Linked DNA regions of Homo sapiens. The protein of the gene in region 4 purifies or fractionates together with the protein of the main gene of each other region. This does not show direct contact. Each region holds a gene or a part of one and is shown on either strand. Other genes may lie near its edges. The genes, in order: FAM114A2, RHBDD1, DOCK5, ACVR1, ARV1, SMAD5 and CLCC1.

Evidence for each region.
Region 1: the proteins of ACVR1 (region 4) and FAM114A2 purify together in Homo sapiens (co-immunoprecipitation; one large-scale study listed by IntAct). This does not show direct contact.
Region 2: the proteins of ACVR1 (region 4) and RHBDD1 purify together in Homo sapiens (co-immunoprecipitation; one large-scale study listed by IntAct). This does not show direct contact.
Region 3: the proteins of ACVR1 (region 4) and DOCK5 purify together in Homo sapiens (co-immunoprecipitation; one large-scale study listed by IntAct). This does not show direct contact.
Region 5: the proteins of ACVR1 (region 4) and ARV1 purify together in Homo sapiens (affinity purification with mass spectrometry; 3 studies listed by BioGRID and IntAct, with this or other methods). This does not show direct contact.
Region 6: the proteins of ACVR1 (region 4) and SMAD5 purify together in Homo sapiens (affinity purification with western blotting, with the first as the bait; 2 studies listed by BioGRID). This does not show direct contact.
Region 7: the proteins of ACVR1 (region 4) and CLCC1 purify together in Homo sapiens (co-immunoprecipitation; one large-scale study listed by IntAct). This does not show direct contact.

The regions. Positions count from the first base shown.
Region 1 is NC_000005.10:154,004,411-154,007,910, reverse strand, and holds part of FAM114A2 (protein FAM114A2), read left to right. Parts: intron 1-3,500.
Region 2 is NC_000002.12:226,996,382-226,999,710, forward strand, and holds the end of RHBDD1 (rhomboid-related protein 4), read left to right. Parts: 3' UTR 1-2,829; downstream 2,830-3,329. UniProt on the Homo sapiens protein: Intramembrane-cleaving serine protease that cleaves single transmembrane or multi-pass membrane proteins in the hydrophobic plane of the membrane, luminal loops and juxtamembrane regions.
Region 3 is NC_000008.11:25,408,189-25,411,688, forward strand, and holds part of DOCK5 (dedicator of cytokinesis protein 5), read left to right. Parts: intron 1-613; coding exon 614-752; intron 753-1,910; coding exon 1,911-2,014; intron 2,015-3,005; coding exon 3,006-3,110; 3' UTR 3,111-3,500. UniProt on the Homo sapiens protein: Guanine nucleotide exchange factor (GEF) for Rho and Rac. GEF proteins activate small GTPases by exchanging bound GDP for free GTP. Along with DOCK1, mediates CRK/CRKL regulation of epithelial and endothelial cell spreading and migration on type IV collagen.
Region 4 is NC_000002.12:157,761,331-157,764,830, forward strand, and holds part of ACVR1 (activin receptor type-1 precursor), read right to left. Parts: intron 1-3,500. UniProt on the Homo sapiens protein: Bone morphogenetic protein (BMP) type I receptor that is involved in a wide variety of biological processes, including bone, heart, cartilage, nervous, and reproductive system development and regulation.
Region 5 is NC_000001.11:230,982,094-230,985,593, forward strand, and holds part of ARV1 (protein ARV1), read left to right. Parts: intron 1-3,500. UniProt on the Homo sapiens protein: Plays a role as a mediator in the endoplasmic reticulum (ER) cholesterol and bile acid homeostasis. Participates in sterol transport out of the ER and distribution into plasma membranes.
Region 6 is NC_000005.10:136,135,845-136,139,344, forward strand, and holds part of SMAD5 (mothers against decapentaplegic homolog 5), read left to right. Parts: intron 1-3,500. UniProt on the Homo sapiens protein: Transcriptional regulator that plays a role in various cellular processes including embryonic development, cell differentiation, angiogenesis and tissue homeostasis.
Region 7 is NC_000001.11:108,929,005-108,932,484, reverse strand, and holds the end of CLCC1 (chloride channel CLIC-like protein 1 isoform 1 precursor), read left to right. Parts: 3' UTR 1-2,544; coding exon of another isoform or gene 2,545-2,784; 3' UTR 2,785-2,980; downstream 2,981-3,480. Other genes in the region: GPSM2 (G-protein-signaling modulator 2), read right to left, coding at 2,545-2,784. UniProt on the Homo sapiens protein: Anion-selective channel with Ca(2+)-dependent and voltage-independent gating. Permeable to small monovalent anions with selectivity for bromide > chloride > nitrate > fluoride.

The DNA.
Region 1 (3,500 bases), on a different chromosome or scaffold from region 4:
ATTTTTTTCTATCTGTGAGGTGAGTTGTAATAATGTAGAGTTCCTGTGAGGTTTAAATGTGTTCACACACATAGCTCTTACAAAGGGCCTGGCTCATAGTAAATAAATGCTCACTGTTGATGGCTCCACAGAAGACAGCCCGATGTCCTCTACATGTAGCTGTTCAATAAATATACATATGTGTTCAATAAACCTTTATTATGCTTAGTAATTTGCTAGGTGCTAGGGAAATAATCATGAAAAAGACATAGTTTACATGCTTAATGAGAGATCACATTAATACGTATTTTTGTAAGGCCAGTAACTCCTTATCTGTCTGGCAGTTCTCGCCATTCTCTGAAAGCAATCTTCAGATTGTTTAAATTTTAGGCATTGAGACTTAAGATGTAGATTGGTTAAGGATCAAGGCCTTAACCATTGGCCCTCAAAAGATTTATATGGCAGGCTGTGATGTAGGGGAAAGAGCACTGAATTAGGAGTCCGGGAATATGATTCTGTGATTCTGATTCTTGTTCTAATACTCACATGTGGTGTGGCCTGGGGCAAATTCATTTTCTTCTGTGGGCCTCATTATTTTTCTGTTGGAAATAAATAAGCTTTTGGAGAAGCCAAGTTCAAAGGTACCTATTGAGATCTGCAGATCTCAACAAGTGGGAAGTTCCAGACTGAAATGTGGTCGTGGATGACATTAATTATTTTGGGAAAGGATAATAAATTACCTTGAGTTGGCACAATAGTTCATGATGATTTCACTTAATATATTTATTACAAGAGAGGTCACTTTGGGTATGCTCTATGCCTACTAAAATATCTCCTGGCCAGGCGCGGTGGCTCACGCCTGTAATCCCAGCACTTTGGGAGGCCAAGGTGGGTAGATCATGAAGTCAGGAGTTCAAGACCAACCTGGCCAAGATGGTGAAACTCCGTCTGTATTAAAACTACAAAAATTAGTCAGGCGCAGTGGCAGGTGCCTGTAATCCCAGCTACTCGGGAGGCTGAGGCAGGAGAATAGCTTGAACCAGTGTGGCAGAGGTTGCAGTGAGCTGAGATCATGCCACTGCACTCCAGCTTGGGCGACAGAGTGAGACTCCATCTCAAAAAAAAAAAAAAAAAATCTCCTTTGGGTATATTAAATTTATGGTATCCGTTTTTTCTTTTATGTGGTCTATCACTCTCCATTTTTCTTTTTTAATCTCTGATAAATTAATCCTTCATTTTTTTACTCAATTTGTCTCTTCAAAGATATTGCAAAGAATTTAACATATTGTTTGTATTATTAGTCAACTGTTATGATTCTTTCCAGCCTCATCTCTCAGTGTTCTCTTCTGTAAACCTCACTACTCCAACCTAATTTTCTGTCACACTCCTCATCCTCTATATTCTTCCTTACTGGCCTTTATTCTGTTTCTCAGGTGTACCAAGCTGATTTCCCTGTGCTTACAACTCTCTTTGCCTAACTATTTGTATGGCCAATTCCTTCAGATTTCAGCTGAAACATAACTTTTCAGAGACCCTTCCTGACCACCCAAACTCAAGCCACCTTCTACCCATACCCACCGTTACTCCATTTTATTTTCTTTATGTATGTTTTTGTTTGTTTGCTTGCTAATTGCCTTATTAGGAGAGAGAAGAGCAGACTCCTAGTTTGTATTATTCACCATTGAATCCCCAGCACTGGCACAGTGTTAGTATATATTTGCAATAAATGAATGAGTAAAATGCCAGTATCCTATATTTTGGTCTTGCTAGATATCTCACTGTTTGCCTACACACTTTGCATTTTTCTGTTTCCAAGCCTTTATATAGTTCATGCTGTTTGGTGTTTTGAATTTGAGAGGTTAATGCTTAAGTAATGGGAAGGTATAGATCAGAGCTAGATTGTTCCTGAATGTTTTTGTGGGAGGATATAGGGAAAGAACCCTACAGTGAAATTCTGGGAACACAGGTCTGCTTTAGCTCATTCGGGTAGCCTTGGGTGTAGCCCCACTTGCTGATCCTTCAAGGCCTAACTCCAGTACTGTATGTGTAATAAAACCTGTTTTCTCAGTTAGAATGACTCTCAAAGTCTTCTCTGGATTCCTATTACCTCATGACAGCTTTGAACACATTCTGTGTATGTAAAGTTAATAAACTAGGTGGTAATAAACAGTTTCTGAGAAACCAGGACTCTTTCACTTGCAAATGACAGAAACTCAAGTTAAGAAACTTAAAAAATAACAGAAACTAATTTAAAAGAGGGGAATTCAGTAGCTCAAGAAAATAGAAAATCAAGGAGCAGAACTGGCTTCAGGCATGGCTCTATTCAGGAACCTATCTCTATCCCTATCTGTGTCTTTCGGCTTGCTTCCTTTTTGTTTTGGCTTCATTCTTAGGGAAGCTTTTCCATATGGTGGTAAAATGACCATTGGCAGCTTCAGGGTGGGTGACTTTTTTCCATTTCGGTAACTCTTACTGAAAGAACACTTCTTTTTGCTGATAATTTTACCAGATGTCCTGAGACTGATGTCCATTGATCTGGCTTGGGTTACTTTTTAATCTATGCACCACTTACTCTGTGGACAGGGGTATTAGTATTCTCAGTAGCTAAATCTGAATGGTTTGCCAACTTTTGGAGCCAAAAGATGGAAGCAGCTGCACCCAGGTCACATGAACTAAGGAGAATCTAGAACCTGCCACCAAAAGAAAGGAGATATGGGTGCTGGTCATATCCATATCCAAAACAGTAGATGTTCTTCACAGTGTGCTGGACACTGGGTGTGCAAAGCCAAATAAAACACTCTCTAGCTATCCTATAATACATAGTTTAGTTAGGAAACAGATAATTCTACTATATTTGGTTAAGTTCTGAATTTAAGTTACCTGAAAGAGATGATGTCTGGGTAGAGGATTGAAAGAACAAGTACAGTAGAGGTCATTCTTACCAGAAGATAAAGTGGAAAATGATAAGAGATGAGGCTGGAAAAGTAGGTAGGGTCTAGGTCATGGAGACCTGTTACATCATGTAAAGAGCATGATCTAGTTGATGAGGAGCCATTGAAGGAAAGAGGAATGGTCAGCCCTGGGCTTAAGACAGATCACTGGTAGCATTTTGGAAGATAGATTTAAGATAAACAGATCAGAAGCAGAGAGACCAGTCATGAAGTGGATCTGAACTCAAGTAGTGGTAATAGGGAGGAGGAAGACGGGAAGAGGATGATGAGGGGCTTGGATAAAATCAGACCATCTTGGTGATTGGTTGGAGAGGAAAAAAATCTAAGATGGCCCCTATATTTTGGCTCAGGTAACTGGTACCTGGTGGCACCTCTAAAACTTTGGGAAATAAAAGAGGTTGAAAAATTTGGGGTAAGAAGAGAAAGACAATGAGTTCAAAGTTTTTATTTGTTGTATGTGTGATGCCTGCAGAGTATTTTGTCTAGCAGACATTTGGAATAAGTTTTCAGGAGAGGTCAGGTCTAGAAATAAGGATCTAAGAGTCAACAGCAGGTTGAGGATAGTTGAAA
Region 2 (3,329 bases), about 69 Mb from region 4:
ATTGGCCATTGTACCAGCCACTTGTCCTAGCCAAATGTCCAAAACACGCCCTTGGGCCCCGCCACGTTACAATCCACAGATTGTCTGTCTGAGTCGTTTAAGGCATTTCCTGGTGCTTGTGTTCCATGAATAAAAGGACAAAGTCAGAAGATCACTGATGTCTTACTGTCAACAGAGATATTTTAAAAGAGAGAAGCAGGAAAAGATCTTCCTTTTTTGATCTACAACTTATATAGTTTTCTGATTATGCACATAATAGATATGCCTTCCAGATGCATAAGGCAAACATCTGGAAAGAAATATACCCAAATCTTAGCAGGGGTTATCTTTGGGAGTGGAGTACATGGGATTTTGCTTTCTTCATTTTTATAATTTTATATTACTGTCTTGGAAGATGTGTTTATGTGTGTGTGTTACTTTTACAATCAGGAAAACATATTTAATAACATATAGTCAAGAAAACAGACTTAAAAATAAATACTATGTGTCCATTGAGAAAATTCACAATATAAACAGAAATACAAATAAATACATACACAATTTTAAAGTCACCTGTAGCCCTACCCTTAGAGGTACCCAGGGTTAACATTTTGGTGGTATTGTCTTATCAATTTTTCCGTTGATACATTCAGCAAATTTGGAGCACATTGACCATGGAGTTTTGTGTCCAAATCCAATCTGAATTTACCTGGAAGAGGCCTTGACACCTGCATGGAAATGAGCTAAGAAAACCACTGGAGCCTTGGGAGCTCTTTGGCCTCCTGGCTGGCCCAGTAATATCTGAGCTCCTTTGGTTAATTTATAACTGATATAAAACTACATCTTCTTTATAATATAAATTGTACCTGTGAGTCTAGAAGCTTTAAATGTGTTTAAATTAAAATATTCAAGCTAAATGTTACTGCTCTCTCCCAAATTCTGTAAGTTTGACTCCCGTTACCCCAATTAGAAGTAACTTCTTTGTTTCATGCCACTTTTATAGCATTTGGTAATTCTGCTATAACACATCTTGCCCCTATTATTAACTGTGCACAGCTACACAAAGGTGTGCCTTCTACGTGGGAACATGGATTGTGAATGACTCTGTAATGAGGCCTGAGTCTTAGTTATCTTTCCACTCACTCCCCGTCTCCCCTTTCCAACCCCAAAGGCTCACGATAGGGGCTCACTAAATGTCAGTGTTTCACCAAAGTATTTTTTCCATTGTATTAAGAGTCCAGTCACTGTATATGGAAGTATTTTATTTTTTATTTTTTTATATCACTTGAGTCCACTAGTAGTACTTCCTTGCTCTGTTTGACTTGTCAGATACAAAGACACGGGATTAGATTTTGGGTGGTAAAATTGTGATACGCATGGCTGTTGATGGAGTGGAACATCTTAGTGATGTGAGAAAGGTCATTTTAGTTATAAATGTAAACCAATTACTTTAGCACAACAATAAAGATGTTCTGGAAATTATTATAATTATTTTAGTTAATGGACTTGCCTGTAACAAGTGCTTATGTTTGGAATGTCCATTTTATTTTATTTTCCTCTACAATAAGGAATCCCTAAAGTTATGCCAACAAACTGGAATTGGATTGAGAAAGACAAAAGCAAGTGAGCAAGTGTATTAGACTAATTATCTCTAGTAGGGAATAAGCACTTAGAGCTAATTTTTTAATTTGGTTTATTTATTAGTAGCTCCCTGATTGTCTGTTAAGCCCCTGGTTCCCACAGTTTGGTGTGGTCAGTCAACTTAAGCGACCTTTTAATGCAGAATCTTTACTTGGTTCTGAAGAGGAGGCAGTAGTTAAAATTGCTTCCTCTTAATGACTCTGAATGTATTGCCTGTGATTCCAAAGTTGTACATAATTGTTCAGACCTCCTCCATCCTTTTAAATTGCCTGCTGCAGTAAATAACTAGTTTGAGTAGAACTAGATCCTGTCTATCTATTTGGCACATGTTCTGCTGCCTGGGGAGTAAGCAAGCTAAAGGGATGAGAAAGACCACCTCCCCCTACCCTGGAAATTGCACTGCAAGGCAGGGCGAGAATGGGGTAGCTGGCAGACCTGGCCTCCTTGTTCCCAGTCTTAGTTTTTCTTGAGAGATTCAGTATTCAGTAAAGAATAGCATTCAATTAGTCAAAAAATATATATATAACTTCTTCCTTTCCCTTCCCATGAATCATTGCAGTCATTCCCTAAGTTTCTTCTCTTTTTTTTTCATGGCTGCTAGTATTTTATTTTAGAATCACAGACTCTCAGCTTAGAGAGTCACAGTATCTCAATTATTTGCTCTGTTCAATACTTAACAATACCTCCTCACTCAATTCTACATAACTCCAGCTTAGTCTTCCAAAATTCACTTTCATGATGCCACTCAGCATCTCAAATACCTTTCATTGGCTCTCTGCTGCCAAAGGATAAAGGTCAAAGTCATTAGCCTCAACAGTGGGCTTCAACCAGCCTTTGGACCTCAGCCCCATTTATCCATCACAGAGGCTGGTAACTAGTCTCACTGCTCAGGCTGTGAGTGTTCCTGATCTTGTGACATTCTGTGCTGTGCTTTTACATGGAACAGCTCTTTCCTCTCTCTTGGCCCATTCAGATCCTCCTCATCCAGCCCCCATCTGAATCCTGTAACAGACACAACCACATCTACACAGTTTCCACATACCACTTGGAATTGCTGGTTATGCTGCAATGAGAGAATGTCTTTGTCTTTAAATTGTAAGCTTCATGAGGGCAGGGACCATCTGTTTCTCTGTCTCTCCTCACAGTGCCTTGAGCAGTACGTTGTCTGGAATGTCAGAACCAATAAATACTTGTGGATTGAAACAAAAAGAGAAGCTCATTTATACTGTCACCAGTGGCGCACATAAACACTAGTGCCTGGTGCTTATTGATATCATTGTAGGTCTTTTTTTTTTCCCTTGAATCAATCACATCAAGGAAAGAATGATGGAAAGCATTTGCTGGTAGAAATAGAGACTTCAGGGCCTTTGTCAGCCTGAAGACATGTCCCACTGCATCGAATGCTGTGACCTGGTACACAAAGCTCAAGATTCCCACACGACCAAGAAGTGTCACCAAGGAGTCCCTGTGAGTAGTACCGAATCTTGCCATGTGCTTTTTACAGGTCTGCGTTGGATGTGTTTGTGCTAACATTTTTTCCTTCTGTGGTATTTAGGGGCAGAGAGAGAATGATCTTAACATCTCGATCAGATGATAGATGAATTGGCAGATTTAGATATGTGATTTATACTTTAGAAAAACTAAAATGTTGCTAATATAATAGAAATCATTAAATTTGGTCATAATAGGTATTGCTGCTTGGGAAGAGA
Region 3 (3,500 bases), on a different chromosome or scaffold from region 4:
AGGCTTGCCCCCCTCTCCCCTGTACCCAGGCATATCACCATCCCCTCCCAGATTGAAGCTGGGCTATGGCTTGTTTCAGGACTCAGCAGCCTGGGTTAGTGTCAGGTCGCAGATTGTGGTAAGGAAAGCACATACCTCATGAGAAGTTCGAGTCTATAAATCAACATTGGTGAAGATCTTGTACCCACAATGTAAACATGTGGGTTGATGCTTAGAGCTGTCGTTCTTGCCACTCTGTCCCCTGAGTCAATCCAAACATTGTCATTTCTCTTCTTTAATTTTTTTAAAAGGTACTTTTCCTTCCATATCAAGTTGTTAAATGTGGCAAGACCACCTTTTCCTGAGAATCAGGGTGGCTTATTTCCAACATAAATGACACAGCCCAACTGTGATCAGAAGAATCAAGTCTGTGGCCATTCAGAAAATAATCTGTGGTTCAGTGGTTCTAGTCAGTGCCTGTTCGGTGTTGCCCATCATATGACAATGCTTAAAAATCGCTCCTTCAGTTAAGTCCTTTTCCAAGTGTCTTCTCAGAAGACAAGGCTGTTGAGAGCATTGTTGAGCTCAGCCTTCCTCACCGTGAAAATGTTTTGCTTTTTCTCTCTGGTCCTAGAGCCCAACCAGAAAAGCACAAAGGCCAAAGAGTCTCCAGTTGATGGATAATCGGCTATCACCATTTCACGGTTCTTCACCTCCTCAGTCAACACCCTTGAGCCCACCTCCACTCACTCCCAAAGCCACCAGGACCCTAAGTAAGTTTTCCTGTATTCCTTATAGTCTTTTTACTAGGGAATGGAGTATGTTTATGCATCTGGGCAGTTTGTAACTAAACCAGCCAGAATGTATGTAAGACCATTGTAAAACTGGTTCAATTTCGTGTTCGTGTATTATACAGTTAGACTGGAGTTTGGCAAGGAGGCCACTAGGACTCATTAAACTTTTCTGGATAGTGATCCAAAGGGCATTAGTGTCAGTTTTATAATTGTGAAGGTATAAATGAGGCAGATCTGCACTAGGACTAGACAGATAACAAGTAACTTACAAGCTAACCATTAGTTAGGTAGACCTGAACAGGGACAAGAAATAGACCCATTCCATCTACTGCTTATAGTCTGGCTTGGGGAACCAGCAGTGCACAACACTTGAGAAGAATTGCAAAGTACCCATAGTCCAGAGGCATGGTAGAGGGATAAATCTATCGAGCCAGATGGGAGACAATTGTCAACCAAGAGTTAGAGATAATCAGTTACAGTTTCCTGGAGGAAGTGGATATTTTCCTAAGCACTTGGGCTATATCAGAGAACAGAATAATACCATACATTCCAGAAAATGTTGTCATCTTCAGCTTAATACTAAAACCCTGAACAAAAAAAGTTTTGGCCAGGCACGGTAGCTCACGCCTGTAATCCCAGCACTTTGGGAGGCCGAGGCAGGTGAATCACGAGGTCAGGAGATCGAGATCATCCTGGCTACAGTGAAACCCCATCTGTACTAAAAAATACAAAAAATTAGCTGGGCGTGATGGTGGGTGCCTGTAGTCCCAGCTACCTGGGAGGCTGAGGCAGGAGAATGGCGTGAACCCGGGAGGCGGAGCTTGCAGTGAGCTGAGATCGCGCCACTGCACTCCAGCCTGGGCAACAGAGCGAGACTCCATCTCAAAAAAACAAAAATAAAAAAAATAAAGTTTTTGCTTCAGAACACCTTGTGGAGCTCTTGAAACTTCTGGCGAGGGCGTCACCTGTGTGATGTGGGGTAAGAAGTCTTCTTCGTTCTATCCGCAGAAACCATAGAATGTGGCTTTCATCAGTTGGTTGACCAGGTTGGCTTAGGTGTTACAGTGCCAGCAACATTTCCATGAGCTTCCTTGCTCAGTGCCTCTCTCTGCCGCCTGCACTTTCTGTCATTTCTAGGCTCCCCATCGTTGCAGACAGATGGAATCGCGGCCACTCCTGTCCCACCTCCACCTCCCCCCAAAAGCAAGCCCTATGAAGGCAGCCAGAGGAACTCCACTGAGGTAGGGAAATCACAGCTGGCAACTGTGGCCAGGGAGCGCCACTCCTGGGAAGGCAGCATCAGGTTTTCCAGGCTCTTTAGTGGGCAGGTTTGCTCATAGACCTGTCACTGCAGTCGATTCTTGGCTCATTCCTGAAACCACAGGAGATAGAGAAGTTTTCAATGGGAAGGACAGACATGCAAGCAGATGATGAAGGTAGAGGCAGGTGTTCTCTGTACCTCGTCCTGGGTACCTGTGAAATAAGCCGTGAGTTCTAGTTCACCTTTTTAGGGGGGCGGGGGCAGGGTCTGGCTCTGTCACCCAGGCTGGAGTGCAATAGTGCGATCATAGCTCACTGCAGCCTCAAACTCCTGGGCTCAAGTGATTCTCCTACCTTGGCCTCTCAATTAGCTGGGACTACAGGCATGTGCCACCATGCCCAGCTAATTTTTTAATCTTTTGTTGAAATGGGGTCTCTCCATATTGCCCAGGCTGATCTCAAACTCCTGGCCTCAAGTGATCCCCCCCACCCACCTCAGCCTTCCAAAGTGCTGAGATTACAGATGTGAGCCACTGCCTGCCCCCAGCCCTCTATTTCACATTTGAAGAGTTTACTTCTTCTGAATAAAGGACAGTCATTCTGGAGTGACCTCAGATGGGTTTCCTTCAGTCATTTAACAAATGACTTTTAAGTGCCTCCTGTCTATACGCCAGGAACCCAAGTGTTGGGGATATGGCAGCGAGAGAGAGAGAGAAAATGTGTGTGTGTGTGTGTGTGTGTGTGTGTGTGTGCGCGCGCGCGCACGCACGCACGCACGCACGCGTGTGTCTGATTAGCTCATGGGAAACAAGGAGGATAAGTCAGTGTAGTTTTCCATTTCACTTTGCAAAGCCTGTGTAGATAAACTCAGATCAATTAGAAGCTAAAGCAGAATATGAGAAATAGGAGGAGAAGGCAGAATTGGGAAGAAAGCTAAGACCTGCTTCTAATTTTGTGTTTCTGCTTCTGCAGCTCGCTCCCCCACTGCCTGTCCGAAGAGAAGCCAAAGCACCACCCCCTCCACCTCCAAAGGCTCGGAAGTCTGGCATCCCTACTTCCGAGCCTGGATCCCAGTAAGGATCTTGCCCTCCCTGCAACACCGAGTGCCTTAGACAGCTGCTGCCTGAGAACTGGCCTCCAGCCGGTGTCCTCATTCCATGGGGCTCCCTGCTGACTGCATTTCCTGATCTGGGATGATGTTTACCAGCCCAAAACCAGTCATGTTCTTCCAAAAGCTTCTCTTTGATAGAATTTTGAGGCCATGCCACCTCCCTTCCAGTCCACATGGAATTCCAGAATCAGTCACAGCCTCTGATTTTTTCCAAGAAGAGATTGCCTTCACCATTGTTAAATGTCAGCCTGTACGGCAGAGACATGGTGGTCTGCACAAGCCTGGACAAGTTCTTCCATATTGATGGTGGAGCAACCCCTGTAATCTACTCCTTGGAAGGATTTTTTGCTTTGCTT
Region 4 (3,500 bases):
GTAAATTGTAGACCAATGCACTAAACCAATGTGGCCTGTGTTTGAGGTCCACAGGAAAACAGGCTCACATGTTAAATGTGAGCCTCTAAGTGGCTTAACAAGAAGCAAATTAAGCTCTCAAGCTCCACCACTGCTCTCACTAGTCTCCAAACACAAATTTCCAACAGTGTGAGATAGAGCATTTAAAGTAATTTATCACTACATAAAGGGCAGATTGCTATAAGCACTGCTTTATTCCTAAAGGAAGAGCTGCTTATCTGAGCAGTAATGCTGACCAAACCCACAGGCCTTTTCTCTAGAATCATGGAAACAGACAGCATTTAACTGGACCTCAATTGAAAGCACAACTCTCAGGTTAAATGGCTTTCAAATGCTTTCTTAAACCATGACTCATTCCAGAATTCCTCAGTCAATTAGGGAGACAGGCTTTCTTCACTGGCCAGTGGGGAGACACATACATGCATGCTTTATTTGTGGATGATTTTATGTTACTGATGCATATGCAGACTGACTGAAAATGATTCCTATAACATTTGTTGTAATGAAAAGTGCCAAATTGGAGCAAGCAGTCCCTGTAAACCACTGCAATGCAAATATCCCTTGTTGATCTCTCAAGCCATCTACAGAGAATGCTTCACCTTCCACTCCACGGCTTTGAATGTGGGGGATGACAATTTCATATAACATCAGGGAGCTAGCACACCTTATCTCATCCTTAATAATTAGCAAAGATACTGGCAACTGCATTACACTAAAACAGACAGGTTCCTCTTTCACCTATTTTTATAATCAACCCCAAGATTCTATGGACACTGTGAACATTTCCCAAATCCTATGCAATAGTCCCCCCACTTATCCTTCAGTTACCCGCAGTCAACTACAGTCCAAAAATAGGTAAGTACAGTACAATTAAGTATTTTGAGAGAGATACCATATTCACATAAATTTTATTATAGCATACTGCTATCATTGTTCCATTTTAGTGTTACTAATGTTCATCTTTTACTGTAGCTAATCTATAAATTAAACTATAATAGGTATGTAATAGGAAAAAACATAGTATATATAGAATCTGGTACTATCCTGAGTTTCAGGAATCCACTGGGAGTATTGGAAGGTATTTCTCAGGGAAAAGAGGGGACTACTGTATGCCCCTCCACCATTTGCAGAACCAAACAGTCAAAATATCAGAATATTTAAAAGGTGCAGGTTAAATAGAACATGGAGATATTCTGAAGATGGGAGAAGCTTCAAAGAACTTGTGGACATATTTTAAAGCCACCACTGCTAGGATCTCCAGGTGAGGCATAATTCCCCATCCCTTGAGTGTATGCTGGACTATTGAATAGACTATGGCATAAGTGACAGTGGGTATCTTCACAGTTAGGATATAACAGATGTTATAAAATTATAAAAGGCTTCCTGTTTGTCCCTCTCAGCTCACCATGCACCATGTTATAAAGACACTCAAGCAACCCTGTGGAGAGGTCCCCCTGCAAGGAGCTGAGACCTGCCGCCAATCATGGCTTTAAGTGTGTCCTCACAGAGTTGGAAACTCCAGCTCTGGTTGAGCGTTCAGATGATTGCAACCTCCACGAGACCCTGAGCCAGAACCACACCGCTAAGTCATTCCAAGATTCCTGACTCTCAAGAGACTGTGTGAGATAACAAATCTGTGTTGTTTTAAGATGCTAAATTTTACAGGTGATTTGTTCTTAGTAATAAGTAATTTTTACACTAAAGATGACAAAACAACCGGATGCAATTTGTAAACTTTGGCTGAGTTCCTCTTTGAAAAAACTGAAAACATCTGAAAATGAATATAAAATGATACTAGAGAATTATCAATAATCTGTAGATATGAAAAACTGATTATGAAGAAGATGCATTTTTAAGTATTTTCAAGGGATGAATTTTGAAGTATTGAGGGGTAAAGTGTTGTGATGCCTGTAACACTTTATTTTCAAATGGATTGGCAAAAATATACACATGGTCACAGATTGATAAAGCAAACATCACAAAGTTTTAACAATTATTGAATCTAGGTGTTCGGGATTTAAGTGATCATTATAACATTTGAATTTTTTAATAATAAAAAGAAAAACAGACGAGGCACAGTGGCTCACATCTGTAATCTCAACATTTTGGGAGGCCGAGATGGGATTGTCACTTGAGCTCAGGTGTTCAAGATCAGCCTGAGCAACATAGTGAGACCTCATTTCTACTAAGAACAAAAAAAAGTTAGCCAGGTGTGGTGGTACACACCTGTAGTCCCAGCTGTTTTGGAACGCTGAGGCAGGAAGATTGCTTAAGCCCAGTAGATCGAGGCTGCAGTGACCTATGATCAGCCTGGGCAACAGAATAAGATCCTCTCTCAATCAATTAATCAATATAATACTGATCTTTTTGCAGGATTAATCATAGAACACTATTTCTAATACATGATCCTTAATTGCTAGGTATATACTGGTAAGTTATATACAAATTATGGTCTTATAAGAGTTGTTTCCTGCACTGCATTGTTTTACCATATCCTGAATAATAACGCCTTAACAGATTTTTATACAAACCCATATATCTAATTGGAAGGTTACAAGCCAAAAGAAATGTAGTTGAAGAATTAATTAGCTGGACTTACTGCAAAGTTCCCCTCAACTCCTTCCCTACCAAGTCCCATAAACCAAAACCAAGAGCCACCTCAATTTGTCCACCCTCCCCAGACCACTGGATTATAACAGAAGCTACAACTTGAATCCTTATTGTTTACCAGACATTTATAATACTTCTGGGCCTTACCAGAATCCGGTGAGGTGGGCTTATTTTTTAGTTACATGAGTAATATATGATCACACTATATATATATTTTTTTTTAGACGAAGTCTCGCTCTGTCGCCCAGGCTGGAGTGCAATAGCGCGACCTCGGCTCACTGCAACCTCCGCCTCCTGGGTTCAAGCAATTCTGCTGCCTCAGCCTCCCCAGTAGCTGAGATTCCAGACGCACGCTACCACGCCCGGCTATTATTATTATTTTTCTTTTTTTTTTTTTTTTGTATTTTTAGTAGAGATGGGGTTTCATCACGTTCGCCAGGCTCATCTTGAACTCCTGACCTCAAGTGATCCTTCCGCCTCGGCCTCCCAAAGTGCTGGGATTACAAGCGTGAGCCACCGCGCCCGGCCACGATCACACTGTTATGCAAGTTTCTAACAACGCAGAAGTACAGGGCACAGCGTCAAGCCCTGGAGTTCCTCTTGGCTAACTCCCAACCCCATCCGCCTTCGCCCTCACTGTCCCTGTCTCACTGAGTGAAAGCAGTGTCAGCACTTGGGCCAGGTAAATAGATAAATAGACTTGCACAAAAATACAGGGTAATTGAGAAAGCCAGAATTTAAACCCAAATCGCCCTGGCTCTAAGAGCCATGGAATAAGCCATAAAAGTCCTCTACACCACAACTAAAAATGCCTGCAAAAAACTTTAGGGCCATGCTCTTTCAATGCTTAT
Region 5 (3,500 bases), on a different chromosome or scaffold from region 4:
AGACATTCTCTCTGTTTTATTCATTAATGTAGCTGTATCACCCAGAACAGCGACTGACATTTAGTAGCCACTCAGTAAATGTCTGTTGAATAAATGTATCACTTCCAGGTTTTTAGATTAGCATATGCTTGGCCATCCAGGTAGGAGGAAGAGAACAAGATCTTATATGTGGTCTAAACTTAATAACTTTTGGACTGGTCCAATTAAATGGTCAGTTTGGAAGATGATAACCACATAACTGAATATGGTCTGAAGAAAAGCTGGTATTTGTATATGCATTTTAGTTAGTAGTCTTCAATAATACAAAAAATCTCTTTTTGTTGGCATTAAGCTAACAAAATCCCTTTGCTAAACAGCAGGTGTTTATTTTGTTTATGGAAAGGCAAAATAATTATTGGATAGCTGTTTAGGTCAACATTCACTTACCCCCTCCCCTTTGTTCCCTAACATGATACTCTTTCTCCCAAGAGATGGACTTTGGAGTTATATTTGGAATATTGAATGGTGGCACAGTACTTTATGGATTCGTTATTGTCCACAGTCATTCCATAATGAGACAGAGTGTCTAATGGCCTTGTCGCTATCATGCTAATGCATACTAAACTTTAGGCCATAATAGCACGACTCAGGGAAAATCATTTTGTTGATGCCAGACTAAAAAATTAAACCATGAAGCAATGAATTATTTTAAAGGCCCTCCAACCTCTGAGATACAAAAAGTAAGAAGTTTTTAAACATTAGACCATGTGTTGTGACATAATCTCCAGAGTTTCTAAGTGGTTACTCATATATACTTTGGTCTCTTCCCTGCCGAACTTGGAGTCAGCAAGATCCTCAGCCTGATCGCCCACGTGTATTTTTCATCCCAATCTCCTTTCCTTTTGCTCTGCTTGTTTCTTCACTGCCATTCCTCCCAGCTTGCCTTTCTGTGTTTCTCTGACTTTCCTCTAATATATCATGTGTCCCTTGCTTTTAACCAATCCTGCTGCTTCAGCTCTTCACAATTTATTATAAGTACGCTTAAAGATACAGTACTTTCGGCCTAGCACGGTGGCTCATGCCTGTAATCCCAGTACTTTGGGAGGCCAAGGCAGGCGGAGCACGAGGTCAGGAGTTCAAGACCAGCCTGACCAACACGGTGAAACCCCATCTCTCTAAAAATACAAAAATTAGCCAGGCGTGGTGGCGCACTCTTGTAATCCCAGCTACTCGGGAGGCTGAGGCAGGAGAATCTCTTGAACCCGGGAGGCAGAGGTTGCAGTGAAGCTGAGATTGCGCCACTGCACTCCAGCCTGGATGACAGAGTGAGACTCCGTCTCAAAAAAAAAAAAAAAAAGTACTTTTTATTTGCTATAGGGCTTGGCTTATTTTAAGTGCACAGATATTTAACAAATTCATTATTATGTTAACAAAACAAAACTCCTATAAGAGTCTCCTAAGTTTCCATTTCCTTCAGCACTACAGCATTCGGCTCCCACCCTTGGGATCCTAGATGCAAAGATGAATAAGACACAGCCCTACCCTTGAGGAGCTTAAAGACTTAAAGAAGGGAAGGGAATGCTCCTAGAGATGACAGGAAGGAAACAGCAGGAATATTTATGAAAAAAATTGGTTTGGCCGATTTATATTCTAAAAGAGATCTGATTCATTAGGCATTGGAGAACACAGCAGGACAGAGGAAGTCATATCCATGTTTAGACAGGTGATGGAAGCAGCCTGAATTCCCAGAGTATGCTTGGTCCTTGCGTTGTAGGGATTCTTTAGAGGAAGATTTTTCTCTTTTCAGGATACTTGCCTATAAAGTAGTAAATGAAACAATTTTGCCAAAATAAGAAACATAGGAAACATAGTTGCTAAATCTGGGCAGGCGTGATGATTCACACCTATAATCCCAGCACTGTGGGAGGCTAAATCGCAGATCACTTGAGGTCAGTAGTTCAAGACCAGCCTGGGCAACATGGTGAGACCACCCCCTGTCCCCCACCCATCTATACTAAACTACAAAAATCAGCTGGGCATGGTGGCACGCGCCTGTAGCCCCAACTACTCAGGAGGTTGAGGTGGGAGGATCACTTGAGCCAGGGAAGCAGAGGCTGTAGTGGGACAAGATCCTGCCACTGCACTCCAGGCCTAGGCGACAGAGTGAGACCTTGTCTCAAAAAGGAAAGAAAAGAAAAGAAACATATATACTAAATTGAATAAATACAACTCCCAGTGGTCTGCTTTGGGATGTCTACATTTGTTTGTTTCGTGTGTGTGTGTGTGTGTGCGTGTGTGTGTGTGTGTGTGTGTGTGTGTGTGTGTGTGTAGTTTTCCTCTTCACATTCAAGGTGAAGGCAGAGGGAAAGGAAGTTGCAAGCAGCACTTAAGGGAAAAGCAAATAATAGAGGGAGAACAAGGAAAGTGAGGTGTAAACTTGTTGTGCCCAGGGGTGTTAGAGAGAACGCCACACTTTGAGACGAATTAAGAGTCCTTTATTAAGCCGGCGGCCAAAGAGACAACTAATGCTCAAAATTCTCTCGGAAGGGGCTTGATTAACTTTTATATCTAGGTTTAGGAAGGGGAGGGGGACTCAAATGCAATAATTCTACAGAAGTAAAAACATGCAAGAATCAAAAGAAGCAAAATGGTTACAGAGAGATAAACAACTTAAAAGACAAATGGTTACAAGAAGAGCAACGGTACCAGGTGCAAGGTTCTAAATCCTTCATTATAATTAGATATAGGGTCTATGCCGGACACGAACTCAAGGTTTTATGTTGTTATCTCTTTGAGAAAAATCCTGGGAACTTCATACATTGTTGGTGTTAGTACCTTATCAGTTAATTGGGCTTTTTTGAAATGCTGATTATCTGTTTACCCAGGCCAACTCCTTACGGAAGGGGGTTGGGTAATGAGCCCTTAGTGTCTTGTAAATTAAGAGGTCAATTGGAGTTTGTCCGGCCTTCCCAGCTAGAGAGAGTCTTACTTACATGAGAAGCAAAGCTAGGTGATTAAAGAGACAAGCAGGACAAAATTCAAAGTAACGAGTTAGAGTAAAAACAAGGTTAGGCGTTTCAAACTGACTGAGAGGGAACCAGCAAACTTTAATGACTTCTCAGCATTTATAAAACATGCCGAATGCTAAGAAGGGAAATGGGCAAAGCACACAGCATATCACATACTACCAGAAGCTGCCTCCTCTGTTTGATTTCATATCACCCTGTGCTTATCCCATTGTAGCCGTTGGATGTTACATAGTCTGATGACTGTGGTCATGAGACCATATCATAGAGGCATGTTTGTCTTCTGCTTCTAAACTGTTAGATCCTTGAGGATAGAAACTGTGGCTGAAGGTGAATATCTAGCACCTTGGAAGTTCCTGGTCCATAAAATGGCCAAGAAAAGAGAACGATTGTTATACATGTAATAGCCACTCCAAAGACATTTGTCAAACAAATGAATGCAAAAGGAATAACAGCTGCTGTGTCTCCTGGTGCTGGTTTCTGCCTACCTCCTTC
Region 6 (3,500 bases), on a different chromosome or scaffold from region 4:
TGTATCTGTCTGTCTGTCTCTCTGTCTCTCTGTACACTAACCACAAAGAAGGCAAATAGTTTATTTCTTCAAATGTTACAAGCAGCTTATAGCCTATGATTTGCCCGTCTTCTCATAGGGTCAAAGACATTGAGTAAGATTCCCTTTTATAAGGGATACTAGTAGCCTGAGGAATGATTCTTGTCTCCACCAGTCTGGATATTCTAGAGAAAAGAATACCTGGATATTCTAGAGAAAAGAATATTCTAGAGAAAAGAAAAGGCCCAAGGAAGCTGGGATGCAATATAGGGTGCTTTCCCATCAAAACAGATGATGAAGGACCCTTGGAAGCTGACCCATGGCATCCCCCCGCCACTGGGTTCTAGCTCTGTCGCCCAATCTGGAGTCCAGTGGCGCAATCTTGGCTCACTGCAACCTCCGCCTCCCGGGTTGAAGCAATTCTCCTGCCTCAGCCTCCCAAGTAGCTGGGATTACAGGCACCCACCACCATACCCGGCTAATTTTTGTATTTTTAGTAGAGACGGTGTTTCACCATGTTCGCCAGGCTGGTCTTGAACTCTTAACATACCTTGTTTTTCCACTTCTGAAGTTAATAGAATAATAGTCATTGGAATTTGCAGTTCATTGGTGTTGTCACATACCCTTTACCTCTAATCAGAAGTCTGAATCTGAGAAGTTTGTTTACTAAATGGGAGGTAAAGATTTAGAACTCTTTTGGAAGAATTGTTAAAAACTAGATTGTTGTTAGGACTAATCTCATAGGCCACCTTAATATTCTAACAGCTTTGTTGTTTTCCAACCTGGAAAGATGGGGTAATTACAGAGTTCTTAGGTTTTTCATAAATAATCAGCTAGTTCTGGGCTATTTATTTGAGAGTGTCTCTCTCTGTCGCCCAGGCTGGGGTTCAGTGACGCGATCTTGACTCACTGCAATTCTGCCTCCCGGCTTCAAGCGATTCTCCTGCCTCAGCCTCCTGAGTAGCTGGGATTACAGGCACCCACCACCACGTCCAGCTCATTTTTTGAATTTTTAATAGAGATGGAGTTTCACCTCGTTGGCCAGGCTGGTCTCGAACTTCTGACCTCAAGTGATCTGCCCGCTATGGCCTCCCAAAGTGCTGGGATTACAGGTGTGAGCCACCGTGCCTGGCTGGGCTCTTTATTTAGTTTTGATTTTTTTTTTTTTTTTTTTTGCCTTGGGCAGCTAGGGGGGATGTTTTTGGCCCAGTTCTAGTAGAGTGGTGTTTTCAGTGACTTTTCTTCCTCCTTTTACTGTATCCTACCTTGGTTGAGATGATATTTTGCAAGAAAGAGTTCTTTATTAAGTCAGTTCTGTGTGTGCAATACTATAATTGTAATTCACTTTTGGAAGCTAGTTATTAACATAACATTTTGTAACTAGGTTTTGCTCTTGAATTTTTTGGGACCCCCCCCCGCATCTCTTCCTATAGCATATATGTACTTTATAGACTGGTACAATATAGAAGTTTGAAAGTGATTTGACCTGTTAAGATTTTAGCAGGATTTTTTCTTTTGATATCCATATATGTTGTTTTGTTATACCGAAAATAATAGAAAAAAACTAGTGTCCCATTCCCACTTTTTCTCTGAGCATAGCAACTGGAGTCTTGGGAGGAGGCTTACATCTTTCAAATTTAACTATGATCTCAGAATATGGCTGGTGCTTTCAAGGCAAGTTTTGTTTTGTTCAGGTTTGTTTTCATGATGTGTTAGGATCTGCCTAGTATCCTATCTGGTAGGCTGTACAACTTGAGTTCTAGTTATTCTGGTTTGTGTGTTCCCAGGAAGAGGGGGGTTCTGCAAAAATATTTAAAAGCCAGTCTTCTTCTGTTTTCTTCTTAGTCACATCTTCTGTCTACTTTACTCATTGACCATTTCTCATTCTTTGGAGATGAAAGTGTAAATTAAGTGAATGATGACACTAGAGCTGAAAAGTTACCCAGAGTCATGTTTATTCCCTTTTCTACTAAGCAGGGAACTTGAACTCTGGGTGCACATGAGTTCTCTGGAGAACATCTTCATAATGCACTGTAATATATGTCGTGTACACAGGTTAGCTCTTTGTGCTCCAGAGACACATTTTACAGTCATGATTTGGTATCTGCACTTGATGATTTTATAATTTAAAGGAATCACTACAAAGATTGACCAGCTCTGTGTCTGTTCCTGTGCCTACACGCCTGTACAAGCATACTCAAACACATCTGGTAGCAATGTAGGAAATCTTGCAGGCTCTGTGGGGGTGAGTGATACATTTAGATCAGGCTCTGTTTAATTAGGGGACTTAGAGGAGCAGGTGAAGCTTAAAGAGTGATTAAAAACTGGGAAACAAAAGTCTGGCTGTGGGAGATAATAAAGTAGAGAATTCTGTGGGCACAGAATAGGCAAGAAGATTATGCAGTGAGAAGTGTTGGGAATCATGAGTTCAGCTCCTGAAGGGCTTTGAAATCTGCTATGAGAACTTCTTATGTCTTTGGAAATCGGGAGCCACAGTTGAGGAAAGTGGTGATTTAAATGTTTCTCTGTGAAAATAATTTTGGCGCCCATGTAATTGTATCCTGTCTTTCTTGTAGATGTTCTTATAAAGAATAGGATTTCTGAATCTAGAAGAGCTGTGAGCAAACATGCTTTTGGTTTCCTTCTCCTCTCTGCGTGCAGTTGTGAATGTGGCTTACAAAGTTGATAGCAGTTGTATACATGGATCTAGGGATGGTTTGACAGTGGTGGTGGTGGTTGTCTACTTGCTGACACTTGGTGACTACTATTGATAATGAGAACCACAAGGGTAAGAGATTTTTAAAGCTTTACCCCCACATCCCCCCTGCCCCCAAAAGTTACCCTTAGGTTGTATGTATGCAAGTGTCTTTCTTCCATTGCAGGAGATCCTGAGCACCTTGGTTCCCAAGCCTCCTGCATGGTCCGAGATTCTTGTTAAAAATGTGGGCAGTAAGGCCCTTCTGCCAAGCTTAGTGAATCTGAATTTTGAGGGATGGTTCTAAGGAATTTGTTGATTTAAAAACCCCATGTCCAATTATTTTGTACAGGTTTGAATTAGAATACAATGGGTTGTGACCCATTATGGGCATTTATTTTCATGGGATGATGTGCTCAGGAGATTTTGTTTTGGCCAATAGTGTTGAGGAAAATGTGGGGATTGGTTTGCTTGCCTTTTTATTTCAGATTGCAGCAGTCATAGAGATGTTGGAGCACAAAGTGAAAGAGTTGTTTCTGTGAATTCACTTTAGAAATCTAGCTGTGAGCTCTGTGTGTGTGTGTGTGTGTGTGTGTGTGTGTCTTTCTGTATGTTTTTCTGTATGTATGTGTGTCTCGGGGTGGGTATTGAAGTCAGTTTGTGTGTGTGTTTATTATGAAAGTTGGTCAGGATGTAGTACTTCCATAACCTTAGGTAAGAACAGGACCTTTGGGTTATTGATTCAACATGAATTCATTTGAAATAGAAGCTTTGTGAAGCTTAGCAA
Region 7 (3,480 bases), on a different chromosome or scaffold from region 4:
AAGTCTACTTTGACAGCTAGCAAGGCGACATGCAACTGTTGTTGAATGATGACAGCAATTCAGGAAAGACTTAAATATGAAAGCAAATTGAACACATCGGGTGTTTGTTATCAGAAAAGAGATGAGATGAGATAAGACTTGTTTATTGACTAGCCAATATGTCATTAAAATTAAGGTTTATATTGTGAAGCTTTTTTGAAATTTTACTTTTTTTTGAGAGTTTTGCTCTGTCACCCAGGCTGGAGTGAGGTGGTACAATCTCGGCTCACTGCAACCTCCACCTCCCAGGTTCAAGAGATTCTCCTGCCTCAGTCTCCCGAGTAGCTAGGATTACAGATGTGCATCACCATGCCTGGCTAATTTTTGTATTTTTTAGTAGAGATGGGGTTTCACCATGTTGGTCAGGCTGGTCTCGAACTCCTGACCTCAAGTGACCCGCCCTTGTCGGCCTCCCAAAGTGCTGGGATTACAGGCATGAGCCATTGTGCCCAGCCTATATAGTGTGAAGCTTTTAGGAAAATCAGAACAGGGTAGACAGCTGTTAAAAACAATGTTTAAATGGAATAATGTTGAATGTTTACAGGCTGTAAGAACTATTGTATACACAAAATAATACACAAAGTTTGTACTTTGTGTACAAATACAAATTTGTACTTTGTGTACAAATAATACAAAAAGTTTGTATACACAAACTTTTTACGTTGTGGTTTGGTATATTGTCTTAACTGAATTTTCTTATAAGAACCCCATGAAACTTACCTGAGTTTTTAAAATGCTATCCAGGACATCATACCTTATAGTATACATGAAACATAATGTAATCCAGGTTGTAATTTAGAACTTTTTTTTTTTTTTTAGCTGAGCACTTAATGTAATTAATTCCAGGTTATGACTCTTAAAAAACATTGGCCATTAGAGAAATAGTTCTATTTGCCCATCCAAATCACCTGAATGACTTTTTGAAAGAATAGGGGTCCACATCCCCAGATCCCATCCCAGCTGTGCACAGTCTGAAGCAAGCAGAGTGAAACAAGTTGGCAACTTGTTCCAAGCGTGGGCCTTTGCAGTCTGTGATCCAGTGTTACTCCAGGTCCCAGTCTGTCCCATACTTGTCTTTTGCTACAGTTAGTTAGTTACTTTGTTATCATCCCCTTGTAAACTGCCTTCAATATCTGGGATAAGGAAGACAAAGCTTAATGACAACTAAGGTTCTAGCTGACATCTTTCTTTCATATTTAATTTTTGTGAGTTTTCATCTGTTTTCTGTTTGTTTATGTGTCCTAGGTTCTTGACCTAACCACATGGGTTTTGTTTTTTGTTTTTATATTAGAACTTAGAAAAGTTTGTTTTACAGCAGTATTATGGAACAGAAGAGACCATTTTAAATAATTTTTTTAAACAGCCCAAAACACACAAAAGATACTTGTTTTCTAGAGACAGGGTCTTGCTCTGTCACCCAGGCTGGAGTGCAGTGGCACGATCATAGCTCAGTGCAGCCTCCACCTCCTGGGCTCAAGTGGTCCTCCTGCCTCAGCCTCTTAAGCAGTTGGGACTACAGGTGTGTGCCAGCATGCTTGCTGTTTTTTTTTTTTTTGAGACAGAGTCTTGCTCTGTCACTCAGGCTGGAGTCCAGTGGCTTGGTCTCAGCTCACTGCAATCTCTGCCTCCCAGGGGTTCAAGTGATTCTCCTGCCTCAGCCTCCCAAGTAGCTGAAACTACAGGCGCATGCCACCATGCCCAGCTAATTTTTGTATTTTTAGTAGAGACAGGGTTTCACTATGTTGGCCAGGCTGGTCTCAAACTCCCGACCTCAAGTGATCCGCCCGCTTCGGCCTCCCAAAGTGCTGGGATTACAGGTGTGAGCCACTGCGCCTGGCTGCTGATTTATTTTTCATAGACACGGGGGTCTATGTTGCCCAGGTTGGTCTTGAACTCCTAGCCTCAAGCGATCCTCCTGCCTCAGCCTCCCAATGTGCTGGGATTACAGGAATGAGCCACCATGCCCAGCCCAAGAAGTAGAGTTTCTTTTATACTGACTTTGGCCTAAAAAAACAGATTTTCATGGAGGAAAAAAAAACCTAGATTTTTAGTAAGACTATTTTATATACTTTTTTACATTGATCAAGTACATTATTTTTACCAAACAACATTGTTTCCCACTACATCCATGGTTATGTATAAAAAAACGCCATTGTCAATTAAGATGTTAAAAAATTATTTCCATAAGAGTATTAAATTCTAATCTATGATTCACTTAACTTCCTACTTTATAAACACTAGGTAAAGTAATCTCACAAGCTGCCAAAGAACACATCCCAAGCAGTAATCACAGACGATGAAGCACCTTACAGGACCCCTCCACCCTCAAACGCGCATGTCCAGAGAAGTATTAATGCCTTAATAGACTACTGAAGGTTAACTATTTACATCATTCTAAAAATATTTTAAGCTGTATTACAGTGCTATAAATTCTCCTTTTAAGGAAAAAAGTAATAGATTGTTTCCTTACCGTGTTTGAAAGGAAAAAAAATAAATCCATAGTAACTAATGGTCTGCCGATTTTTTCCCTGAATTTTTAAACTCCAACAAAGCATTATTTTGCAAAAAGTCCTTTAGCCCAAAGTCAGTGTCTCTGTTTTGATCTCTTTGTAAAAGAACTCTCTGTTCATCCATTCTCTTTCCCTGGGACCGTAAAATAAGGCTGAAAAAGTCTTCATCTGGTACTGTCGGACCCTTTGTGGTAGCAGGTGGTGGAGCACATCTTTGATCATCTAATCTGGATCCCTAGAAGTTTATGAGAGAGATTAAAAGACATACTGTGGGAAAGAAAGCACCAAGCTATGTTAAATCTCTCAGTCACAACAAGAAAACGCAGTTGTAAACTTTTATTTGGGGCTTCTCAGAAATTAATCTTTGTTTTTATATTGTTCTCTTTAGTTCCCAGCCTGATTTCTGAAAGAAATAATCTTTAAACCTGAAACTGCATAAAATTTTTCCTTTAAAATGGCTTATATAGGTATAGCTGCTTCATTGGTTTAGTACGTGCATTATGTTAAGTCATACTGTTTTAATTATAATTGGTCACAAGGATAAAAGACAAGGTCAACTGTATCTAAGTATGACAGTTCAAGGTTATAATCTAACAGGCATCAACTGTGTAACTTAACAAATCTTTAGAAATATGTACAAACCCCATGAGGAACTACCTTAAAAAAATCACGTCTTAGGCTAGGGGACAGCAAACTGTAACCCAGTGCCGGCTTCTGTAAATGAAGTCATTTTCATTTTCCCATCAATACATATGTTTATATACTATCTATATGGCTGCTTCCCTACTAAATGGCAGAGTTGGGCAGTTGCAATAGATACCATATGGGCGGCAAAGCCTAAAATATTTTCTATCTGGCCTTTTACAGAAAAAGTTTGCCTGCCTCTGTCTTAGGCTGTTAAATCTGTTAAGAAATAGCCCAGAATGAATTT